Homo sapiens: one gene and its partners. The protein of the gene in region 1 purifies or fractionates together with the protein of each later gene. This does not show direct contact. Each region holds a gene or a part of one and is shown on either strand. Other genes may lie near its edges. The genes, in order: ANXA4, MPST and RAB11FIP5.

Region 1 (3,649 bases):
TTCCTCTCTCAAATCACACTTACCTGCTGTCTCCCTTCTTCCCCCAGGCACCGATGAAGACGCCATTATTAGCGTCCTTGCCTACCGCAACACCGCCCAGCGCCAGGAGATCAGGACAGCCTACAAGAGCACCATCGGCAGGGTAGGCCACAGTCTTTCCTGCTCTGTCTGGCTGACTTCGCAGCAACAGGAAGCAGGGCCTCTTCCTGATCTAGGTTCCCGAAGTGACCTTGTGTTTTAAAAGATCGATCCTTTGTCTTGTTTAAAGATGTTCTTGAGGCCAGGTGTGGTGGGTCACACCTGTAATCCCAGCACTTTGGGAGACCGAGGTGGGTGGATCACTTGAGGCCAGGAGTTTGAGACCAACCTGGCCAACATGGTGAAACCCCATCTCTCCTTAAAAAATACAAAAATTAGCCGGGCATGGTGCTGAGCACCTGTAATCCTAGCTACTTTGTAGGTTGAGGCAGGAGAATTGCTTGAACCAGGAGGTGGAGGTTGCAGTGAGCCAAGATCATGCCACTTCACTCCAGCCTGGGCAACAGAGACAGACTCCATCTCAAAAAAAAAAAAAAAAAAAAAAAAAAGAATAGCGATTCAGCTCCTTCTTCGTCAATTGATCTTAAACAAGTTCTTAAACTCTCTGACCCATTCCAGGAGGAAATGTGAATAAACATCTTTAGAATTTGGTCCATTTTCCAAATAATTATATTTGGAAACTATATCTCAGGAATTGAGCCTTAAGAAATAGTCATGAATGATCACAAAGATACAACTAAATGCCTTATGTATATAACAGTAGAAAAATAGAAACAGGTGACTAGTTAAAGAAATTAGGCTGGGTGTGGTGGCTCACACCTGTAATCCTAGCACTTTGGGAGGCCGAGGCGAGTGGATCACTTGAGGTCAGGAGTTCGAGACCAGCCTGACCAACATGGTGAAACCCCGTCTCTACTAAAAATACAAAAAAATTAGCTGGGCATGGTGGTGGGCACCTGTAATCCCAGCTACTTGGGAGACTGAGGCAGGAGAATCGCTTGAATCCAGGAGGCGGAGTCTGCAGTGAGTCAAGATCGTGCCACTGCGCTCCAGCCTAGGCAACAGAGCAAGACTCCATCTAAAAAAAAAAAAAAAAGAAATTATGTTGCACCTATCTATAGAAATCTCCACAGCTGCTAAAAAGGTTATCAGTGAATATTGACTTGGAAGTATATTCAAGACATATTGTTAAGTAGGCAAATACATTTACATCGGTGTCTACAAACATATTCACCTCAAAGTTCCTTTACCTCTTAAATTTTTTAGGACTTTTGGTTTTGTGGGTTATATCTTTTGATATTTGCCCTATTAGAAACTAAAACTGAGGGCATTTAAAAATAGATATTTGTTAACTTAGTAAAAATAATAAGTATATTGTATGTTACTGTAAATAACATTTTAATGAAAAATAGCTATATATCCCAAAACGAAAAAACATTTAGTGAGAAGATTGGCATTGTTTTACATTTTGCAGATCTCTTTAATGTCTGGCTTAATGGAAGACAGATGGCTTCTCATATCTATTTCTACTTCAATTTGTTATGATATGTGGTTTTGGTTGGGGTATATGAAGAAAATCTGGCTTGTACAGATATGTACTTGAAAATGGGGGGAGTATTTGAACAGACAGTTGTTGATGCACAGACAATGTCAAATAGCCTTAGGAAAACCCCACTGTATGCTTGTGGAAGAATGACAGTGAAAAGGCAAATAACATCTGAGTGTTATTCTGAGGATAGTTTTGACTTGCAGGCCCCTTGAAAGGGTCTTGGAGACCCCAGACATCCCTGGACCACACCTGGAGAGTAGCTGGTCTAATTTGCTATAGCAGTTAAGCGGAGCTACTTTCTTGCATTGCAGGACTTGATAGACGACCTGAAGTCAGAACTGAGTGGCAACTTCGAGCAGGTGATTGTGGGGATGATGACGCCCACGGTGCTGTATGACGTGCAAGAGCTGCGAAGGGCCATGAAGGTCTGTGCTCTTCCTCTCGTGCTCTTGGTGCTGTTGGTGCAAACGCTGATGTGCTTTCTTAAGAAACTGTCACCCAATAAGAAAGACATGGAAGCAACCTAAACGCCCATCAATGGTAGACTGGATAAAGAAAATGTGGTACATGTACACCATGGAATAGCTGTAAAAAGGAACAAGATCATGTCCTCTGGAGGAACATGGATGGAGCTGGAGGTCATTGTCCTTAGCAAACTAAGGCAGGAACAGAAAATCAAATACCATATGTTTTCACTTACAAGTGGGAGCTAAATGATGAAAACACATGGACACATAGAGGGGAACAACACACACTGGGGCCTGTTGGAGGATGGAGGGTGGGAGGAGGGAGAGGATCAGGAAAAATAACTAATGGGTACTAGGCTTAATACCTGGGTAATGAAATAATCTGTACAACAAACCCCCATGACACAAGTTTATCTATATAACAAACCTGCACATGTACCCCTGCACTTAAAGTAAAAGTTAAATTTTTTTAAAAAAGAAAGAAACTATGACCAAGGCCTTCTGAGAGTAGCAGGTGTAAAGTATAGGAGATTTTCCTTCATTTACGACAACTTGAAAACATCATTACTTTACATTATACCAATTATAATTTAAAAGTTCTTTTCCAAAAAGTTAGGGAATCATTTGCTCCTTCCTGTGGCTCAATGGGGAGTGATTATAATTGTCGCTTTTAGTACAGCTCTAGAGACTTTTAGCTATCTCTAGACAGCTAACTACTTTTGAGATATGTAACTTTATGACTGACACTTTAGGGGCCTCCAGGTCTACTATAGGCTTACTTCTGGCAAAAGAGTTCCTGGCTTCCCTAGATGACGTACCCACTGTGCCCTAGCCTGGTCTGCCAAATTTTAATGACCAAGTATGTAATGCAAATATAAATGGTCCCCACCTTAGGATGGTTCTACTTAAAAATTTTCAGTGTATTGTACTCCTCATCATAAGTCGAGGAGTACAATTATCCTCCTCAACCATGTCAATAAATACTCAGACTTGTGGAAGGTTCTGGGCCAGGCTCTGGGAAAGCAAAGAGGTGACAAAGTCTTTGCCAGAAAATTCTGCCCTTCAGAGGAAGAGAGCAGAAGAGGTCAAGGAAAAATTAAGTCCCCAGAGGGCAGAAACCATACCTACCCGGGCACAGTAACGAACACATAATAAACAGCCTAGAAATGTTTGTTATTACTCATAATTGTTACGGCAAACACTTTGGGTTTCGGGTGGGACAATAAAAGTGAACAAACCCTGTTGTTAGAACGCAGTGGATTGTCTTTATTCTCTGCAGATTCATGACAGATGTATTCCTTCTGTGTCTGGGCCTCAGCTTTGTAAACTGGCTCATATAGCCCTGTCCTCTGGTTTCTTGTTTAGGGAGCCGGCACTGATGAGGGCTGCCTAATTGAGATCCTGGCCTCCCGGACCCCTGAGGAGATCCGGCGCATAAGCCAAACCTACCAGCAGCGTACGTGACATCCGCAGTGGCCCTGGCTGAGGTTTCGCTGTGATTAGAGAATGAGGGTAGCAGCGGGTTGTTGTTTGCTGATTAGACTTTTCACAGAACGCTGAGCATGAGGGATCCTCGGTGCCAAGCTCTGCTTCG
Region 2 (3,649 bases), on another chromosome or scaffold:
CCCGTCGTGTGTCACAAAGCCCATGTAAATGTGGCAGGGATCTGAACCCCAGTCTGGCACCACCAGCTAGCTCCCCTGTGTTGCTCATTCCCCTGGGGCTGAGATGGAGAACCCAACAGGATTAAGGTGGTGCTCTCATTAGGCTGAACCACATGAAACTGACACCTGTGTAGGTTCAAAAATGGTTGGATATCAGCTGTTTCCTATGGTTCCGGTAACACCAACATTGCTTTGCAGGATTCCATGCAACAGGGACCTTCTGTATTCACCAAACCTCTCTGGAACATCGACTCTGTGCCAGGTACTGAGCTAATCTTCAGGATGCATGAAGAGCAGGGACAGTCCTTGCCCTCAGGCCATCCAAAACAATGCTGGCCCATGGTGAGCCCAAGCGGCTCCAAACCCAATCTGTAGCCATGGGAATGCTCTTCAGAGAGCTCTCTAGGGGCAGTGGTCAGTTTCTTGCACTCTTGAAGGCACAAGAGAAAGGGCTGGGGAGTTCCTGGTTGCTCACGGCTGTTAAGTGCGCAGGCTGCCGAGTCTGAATCCCGGCTGGGTTGTTTCTTGAGACCTTGGGCCAGGTTCCATTTCCTCCTCTGTGCAATGACAGTATCTACTTACACGGGATGTTTGAAAGACTCACACTAGCGTGACCACTGACCAGCCTGCTTTGTGGGGACTCCTCCTCGCATTATACAGAGCTTACCCACAGGCTTCTTGCCTGAGGAAATCCAGCCCACAGGCAGAAGGCTCTGCCCTACCCACTTCTGTTTAATCCCCCTTCCACCCTCAGTTCTCCAAGCTTTGGTCCCTGGAAGAGACTTTCCTTTATGCAGCCCCCGACTCTGCCTTCATTCCACCATCCTCAGGGGCATGGGTAGCCCTGATCAGGACCATCCCTCTGGGTTTTTCTCTCATACTGGGGCCTGCCCCCCAACATTCCACAGTGACCCCCCACACCTCTAGTGTTGGATTGAGAGCTGTTTGGGCAACCAGGGTTCCCAATGAGCTAGGGAGAGTCACTGCCCAAAGCACAGGAGGGGAAGGGCCAGTATTATGGTTCTGCTTAACAGACAAAGTCACCGAGGCAAGTGGAAGTCAAATCTCCTTCCCCACCTCATGCAGTGGCCTTTAAAGGCAAGGTCAGGCTGAGCGGGGAGGGTCACCTGAGCCCAGGAGGTTGAGGCTGCAGTGAGCCATGATTGTGCCACTGCACTCCAGCCTGGGCGGTAGAGCCAGACCCTGTGAAAAGAAGGCAAGGGTAGGGAAAAGGGGGAAAGGAGGGAAGGGAAAGGGAAGGAAAGGAAAGAAAAAAGGAAAGGAAATGAAAGCAAGATAAATTAAAAAAATAAAAGAAAGGTCAAGTCCAGGGCACTGCTCAGGGCGTAGAGGCCGCGCCCCCGACGACCTCCTGCCCCCTTCCCCCGCGTTACCGTCTCGGGGCTCGGGCTCGGTGCCGCGGAACCTGCCAGTGGCTCGGGAGTCCACCACCTGGAAGCGCCGGGATTCCAGGTTCTCCTTGATGTCCTCGTAGGTCTTGATGAAGGCGGGGTCGAGCTGAGCGCGGAACTCGGCGGGAGCAGGTTGGCTCTTGCCGGAGCTGAGCGGGAGGTTCTGGCGCAGCCAGTGGCGGAGGCCGCCATCAAGCAGTGACACGGCGTGGTGGCCGAAGGCGCGGAACATCCACCAGACGCGCGGGGCGGAGTAGAGGCCCTGGTCGCTGGCGTCGTAGATCACGACGTGGGTGGCCGCGCCCACGCCCAGGCGGCCTGCGTACTCCGCGAAATGCTCGGCCCCGGGCAGCATGTGGTCGTAGGGCGAGGTGCGGTCGCTGCACTGGTCGATGTCGAAGAAAGCGGCGCCCGGGATGTGGCGCTCCTCGAACTCGCGTCGCGCGTCGCGCCCCAGCTTCGGCAGGTACCAGGAGGCGTCCAGCAGCTGCAGAGGCTGCCCAGCGCGCGGGGCCCGCAGCGCCTCCGCCACCCATTGCGCCGACACCAGCGCGCGGCAGAGCTGCGGCGAAGCCATGGCGGCGACACTCGGGCTGCGGGCCTGGGCGACAGGGAGGATGTCAGAAGGGAAGCAGGGAGAGGCCGCTGTTGGGGCTAGGGCTGGGGCTGGAGCATGGGCGAGGGCCGGCGGGGGAGGTGCGGCCCGTGCAGGGCAGAGTCCAGGGAACGCAGAAACCAGTGGTGGTGAACCCGGGCACAAAGGTGGGTAGCCAGGGGCCTCCCTCTGCCAGGCCTCATATAAACACAAGCTCCGAGTGACCCAATGACCATGACCTCCCGGAGAGCCCCAGGCCACGCCCCTCACCTCCACTTGCTGGGCAGGAGGGTGGGTGGAGGTATCCTAGGGCAAGGCCCTGCTGGCTTCAAGGCACAAACAGGGGCAAAGTCTCCACCCCTCCCTAAGATGCAGCTCGGCTTTATTTGCAACCAAGTCCCAGACGGAAGTCATTCATTCACTCATCAAGCATTTATATTGGCGACCTAATAGGAACAGTAGCTGGAATTTACTGAGTCCTTGCTGGGTACCACTGAATCCTAACAATATCCTAGAACAATGCCTGACACAGTAGACTCTCCAGTATGTGTTGAATGAGTGATCTTAAGAGGCCTGGTATATTATTGTCACCGTTTCAAGGAGGACACTCAGGCTCACAGAAGTGCACTAACCTGGCCTGGTGCGGTGGCTCACGCTTGTAATCCCAGCACTTTGGGAGGCCCAGGCAGGTGGATCACCTGAGGTCAGAAGTTTGAAACCAGTCTGGCCAACATGGTGAAACCCCGTCTCTACCAAAAATACAAAAAATTAGCCGGGCTTAGTGGAGGGCACCTGTAATCCCAGCTACTCGGGAGGCTGAGGCAGGAGAACTGCTTGAACCCAGGAGGCGGAGGTTGCAGTGAGCCGAGATCGTGCCATTGCAATCCAGCCTGGGGAACAAGAGCAAAACTCTGTCTCAAAAACAAAAAACAAACAAGAAAAAGTGCACTAGCCTGACCCGGCGGTGCCAGGCTTCTCACTAGGCAGTCAGTCTGGCACCAGAATCCGGACTTCTCAGACACACACTCTGTGCAGGCTCCAGGAGTCTGGCGAGGCCAGGTTTTGCCTGTCCAGCCTGGGCTCTCTCTGGCCCTTCTAGCAGCAGCAACAGTGACTTCGCACCTCCCTCCCTCTCCTCTCTATCTTTCCTGCATACCAGAGACAGTGCACCAGCTCGCCAGCCCACTATGCCAGGCCAGCCCACAGCCTTCCTGGGTGTAAACTTCCCAAACACTTTAAGCCCTTTGTGCTGGGAAGCCACCGTTGTGCAGGTGAGAGGAAAGGGCCCCTTCTGCCAGGCAGAGGCTGAGCCCCCACCAGGGCACATGGCTGGGTGTGTGGAGTATGGGCTGCAGATCAGCCCTCACTTATCCCCTGTGTGAGGCCCAACCTTGACACCCACTGCATGCAGTCCTGCCAGCGAAATGAAGGGGGCAGGTAGAGAACAACATCTGTGGACCGAGTGCCTCTGTGGGCCAGGTCACATGCTAGGCACCGCAGCCTTGGGCGGGTATTAGGACGCCTGCTTTATGAATGAGGCCACTGGCAATTAGAAGAATAAGTGCCTTGCCCGTGGTCACAGGAGGCAGCCTCAGGATTTGCA
Region 3 (3,649 bases), 3.3 Mb from region 1:
CTAAGTGGCTTGAAGCAGCCATTTCACCTCTGTAAAATGAGGGTGATAAAATCATGCAGTTAAAGACAAGGTAAAGTGAAACTAGAACTATTATATTCAGAGTATGGTGACACAGTTGGAAAACCCTTTTCCCTAGAGCCTCCTCCACCCTGATGCCTCCTCTCCTCTCCAAGTGCCCACCACAGCAGCCTGCCTCACACACTGGCACACAGGAGCTGTGTGGGCCTCAAGCCAACCCCTGCTGTCTCCCCGCATCCACCGCCTACCCCATCTTTTGATTTGGTATCTACAGTAAAACTGCAAGCCAGACATAATTGCAGGACAGGATACAGCCTCTTATCAGGCCAGAAGATGATTCTTATCACCTCCTCTGGCACCATGCCTGGCACCAGCAACCTTTGGAGGGAGCCCAGGTCCTCATTCATGAGTTCCCCCTGCCTCTGTGGGGACAGCTCACTCATCCCTCCTCAGACCCCAGCCAGGTCCAGCCTCCCTCCCTCCTGGGCACAAGCACTTTTAATCCTCATCCTAATGCTGTAGGCTCCAAAGGTCTGTCACTGTCAGCTCACCCAGCACAAGGAAAAGCTGCAAAAATGGCTGGAGACAAGTCAAACCACAGAGAGCAACAGAAAAGATGTAGGGTTGATAGCACAGTGTAGGGAGAAAAGCATCAGGCTTAGACATCAGAAATCTGGCTGCCACTAAAGAGTTGTGTGACCTTGGACAGGTCATTCCACCTCCTGAGACCCCAGTCTCCATATTCGCAAAAATGGTGATCCCCCTGTCTGCCCTCAGGGAAGAATGAAATGAGGTGATACTGGGAAGGCACCCTTAAAAGTAGGCCAAACCACACAGAAAGATGTGGGTTTATTGTCTATCAAAGGCCTTTTACAGGCCATCATCAGCCCCATATAAGTGAGGTGGCCCAGGACCAAAAAGCAACAACCCTGCCCAGGAGGAAGGAGAGAACCCGCAAGATGACCTCTCTCAGGGGATCTCTGGCAGGTGGAAAAATAAAGAAATTCCACTTAACCCATCCCCCTCCCCAGTGTGCTCCTAACCCCATATTCACCCTGACCAGGAGACTCAGGTTGAGGAAGACAAAACCAAGTGGCGATGGTCCCCTCTGCCAAGGTCTCAGTTCAGACCCCACAACAGGGGGAAACAAACAATAACTTCCCTGCCAGGCTCATGGGAAGTACAGAACTGTGTGGTGAGAACGTTGCATTTGGGAACAAGGAGGGAGGGAAGAAAAAACACAACGCATTTGCCTTTAAATGCAGAAAACACCTTTGGAAGGTTACACAAGAACTGGTAATGTTGGATGTCTCTGAAGAGAGGAGCTAGGTGACTTAAGGTGGGTCAAGGGAAATTTTTTTCATTATGTGCCCTTCTGTACCTTTAGAATTTGGACCAGGTGAACTACTCAAAAGTAAATAGGGGCCAGGTGTGGTGGCTCACACCTGTAATCCCAGCACTTTGGGAGGCTGAGGCAGGCAGATCACTTGAGGTCAGGAGTTCGAGACCAGCCTGGCCAACATGGTCTCTACTAAAAATACAAAAATTAGCTGGGCGTGGTGGCACGCACCTGTAGTCCCAGCTGCTCGGTAGGCTGAGGCAGGAGAATCACTTGAACCTGGGAGGCGGAGGCTGTAGTGAGCCAAGATCACACCATTGCACTCCAGCCTGGGCAACACAGCAAGACTCTGTCTCAAAAAACAAAACAAAACAAAACAAAACTAAATAGGAAGTAAAGAAAGTCCTGCTGTTTTGCTGAGAGTGGCACACAGGGAACTAAGCTTGGCTCCCCTCACTCCCTCTCCTGGCCCAGTCCCACCACACTCACAGTTTCCCTGCCTCCAACTCACCCTGCCTCTAATCAGGTCTCACCTGTTATTCAAGGCCTCACCTCTCCCAAGAAGCCCACCCTGATCACTCCAACTGGTGAGCTCCCTCTTCTCCTGACCCCCTCATTCTCTCACGCTTTTTATATGCTGCTTTGTAGAGGAATTGTCCTTGCTGCGTTAGGCTTATCTCAAACATATTTTAGCCCTTCTGGAGAAAGGGCTATCCACTTTATTTCCCTGGTTTCCCCCACAGCACTGACCTAGGCACAGTGGTTACAATGGTTGTCCAGTAATTGCTTCCTGGATGTTGTGAAACAGAAGGGAAAAAATAGCAAATGACTGTATTGCTGCAGGAGGAAGAACAGGATGGCTTGGAGTGTTCTGTCACAGTAAAACCAGCATGTGACGTCTTGGGAAGGATTACGGAGTCTGGTATGTGCTGATGCCCCCAAGCCCTGCTTGAAAGGAGCAAATCTCCCCAGGGTGGAAAGTGCCCTGGTGGAAAGTGAGGCTGACCTTCTCAGGCCTCACTCCACTCCTTTTTTTATTTTTATTTTTTGAGACAGGATCTTGCTCTGTCACCCAGGCTGGAGTGCAGTGGGGCAATCATTGCTAATCGCAGCCTTGAACTCCCGGGCTCAAGTGATCCTCCCACCTCAGCCTCCTGAGTAGCTGGGACTACTGGTGTGCACCACCATGCCCAGCTAATTTTTTGTATTTTTGTAGAAATGGAGTCTTGCTATGTTGCCTAGGTTGCTCTTGAACTCTTGGCCTCCAGTGATCCTCCTGACGCGGCCTCCCAAAGTGCTGGGATTACAGGCATGAGCCACCACACCCAGCCCTCACTCCACTCCCGAGAGGTATCTGGTGGCAGTGACTCCCTCCCAAAGTATGAGACAACATCCCCCAGCCTCTGGGACAGACATAAGGCTAGAGCTGCAGACCAAATGTGCTTATCCCAATAAACCAAGGACTCACCCAGGAGAAGCAGGTCATGCCTACAGAGCACCAGATTAACCCCCGAGATCCATGTCAAGGAGAAGAGAGGAAGCCTTGGCAGGCAGCAGCTGAGCACCTGGCCCTGTGCAGAGCAGGGTCATGGAAGACATGGGGGAAGACTGAGGTGGGCAGTGTGGTGTGGTGGCCAAGAGCATAGACTGGGAAGCCAGACTGCCTGGGTTCACATCCTGACTTTGTGCCATGTGCTGTGGTCAAGTCCAGTGACTCATGCCTATAATCTCAGCACTTTGGGAAGCTGAGGCAAGAGGATCACTTGAGAGTTCATGGCTGCAGTGAGCTATGATGGCACCACTGCATGCCAGCCTCAGTGATGGAGCCAGACCCTGACCCCACCCCCTCAAAAAAAAGAAAGAAAAAGCAAAGTCACTTTACCTCTCCGTGCCAAGGTTTCCTCAGCTGTTAAACAGCACCTACACCTCAAGGGCTTGCTGTGGACAAATGGAAGTCCAGACCTTAAGACAGTGCCAGCACCCAGATAGGCCTTCATCAGCAATGCACTAGACCAACGAGGCAATGAAAATAATGCACCAAAACAGGTGCCACATGCTCCAGATGTGGGGATTCAGAGAAGGCTGGGGAGGCAGATGGGTTCCATGATGGCCGACAGGTCTCTGGTGTATGTCCCCTCCTCACAGAGGAGGAGACCACAGCCAGCGCCAGTGGCTCTGTCTGCTCCGAACATCTCCAGGGCTCCCTGTCTAGGCCCCAAAACACAGCACTTGGCTATAGGGCTTCCTCCAAATGTAGGGAGATATCCAGGCTTCCCCCCCTTTGGAATCTCT

What was found.
Region 2: the proteins of ANXA4 (region 1) and MPST fractionate together in Homo sapiens (co-fractionation; one large-scale study listed by BioGRID). This does not show direct contact.
Region 3: the proteins of ANXA4 (region 1) and RAB11FIP5 fractionate together in Homo sapiens (co-fractionation; one large-scale study listed by BioGRID). This does not show direct contact.

The regions. Positions count from the first base shown.
Region 1 is NC_000002.12:69,804,486-69,808,134, forward strand, and holds part of ANXA4 (annexin A4), read left to right. Parts: intron 1-47; coding exon 48-142; intron 143-1,899; coding exon 1,900-2,013; intron 2,014-3,420; coding exon 3,421-3,511; intron 3,512-3,649. UniProt on the Homo sapiens protein: Calcium/phospholipid-binding protein which promotes membrane fusion and is involved in exocytosis.
Region 2 is NC_000022.11:37,022,595-37,026,243, reverse strand, and holds part of MPST (3-mercaptopyruvate sulfurtransferase), read right to left. Parts: intron 2,493-3,649; exon of another isoform or gene 2,317-2,492; intron 2,053-2,316; coding exon 1,434-2,052; intron 1-1,433. UniProt on the Homo sapiens protein: Transfer of a sulfur ion to cyanide or to other thiol compounds. Also has weak rhodanese activity. Detoxifies cyanide and is required for thiosulfate biosynthesis. Acts as an antioxidant.
Region 3 is NC_000002.12:73,102,855-73,106,503, forward strand, and holds part of RAB11FIP5 (rab11 family-interacting protein 5), read right to left. Parts: intron 1-3,649. UniProt on the Homo sapiens protein: Rab effector involved in protein trafficking from apical recycling endosomes to the apical plasma membrane. Involved in insulin granule exocytosis. May regulate V-ATPase intracellular transport in response to extracellular acidosis.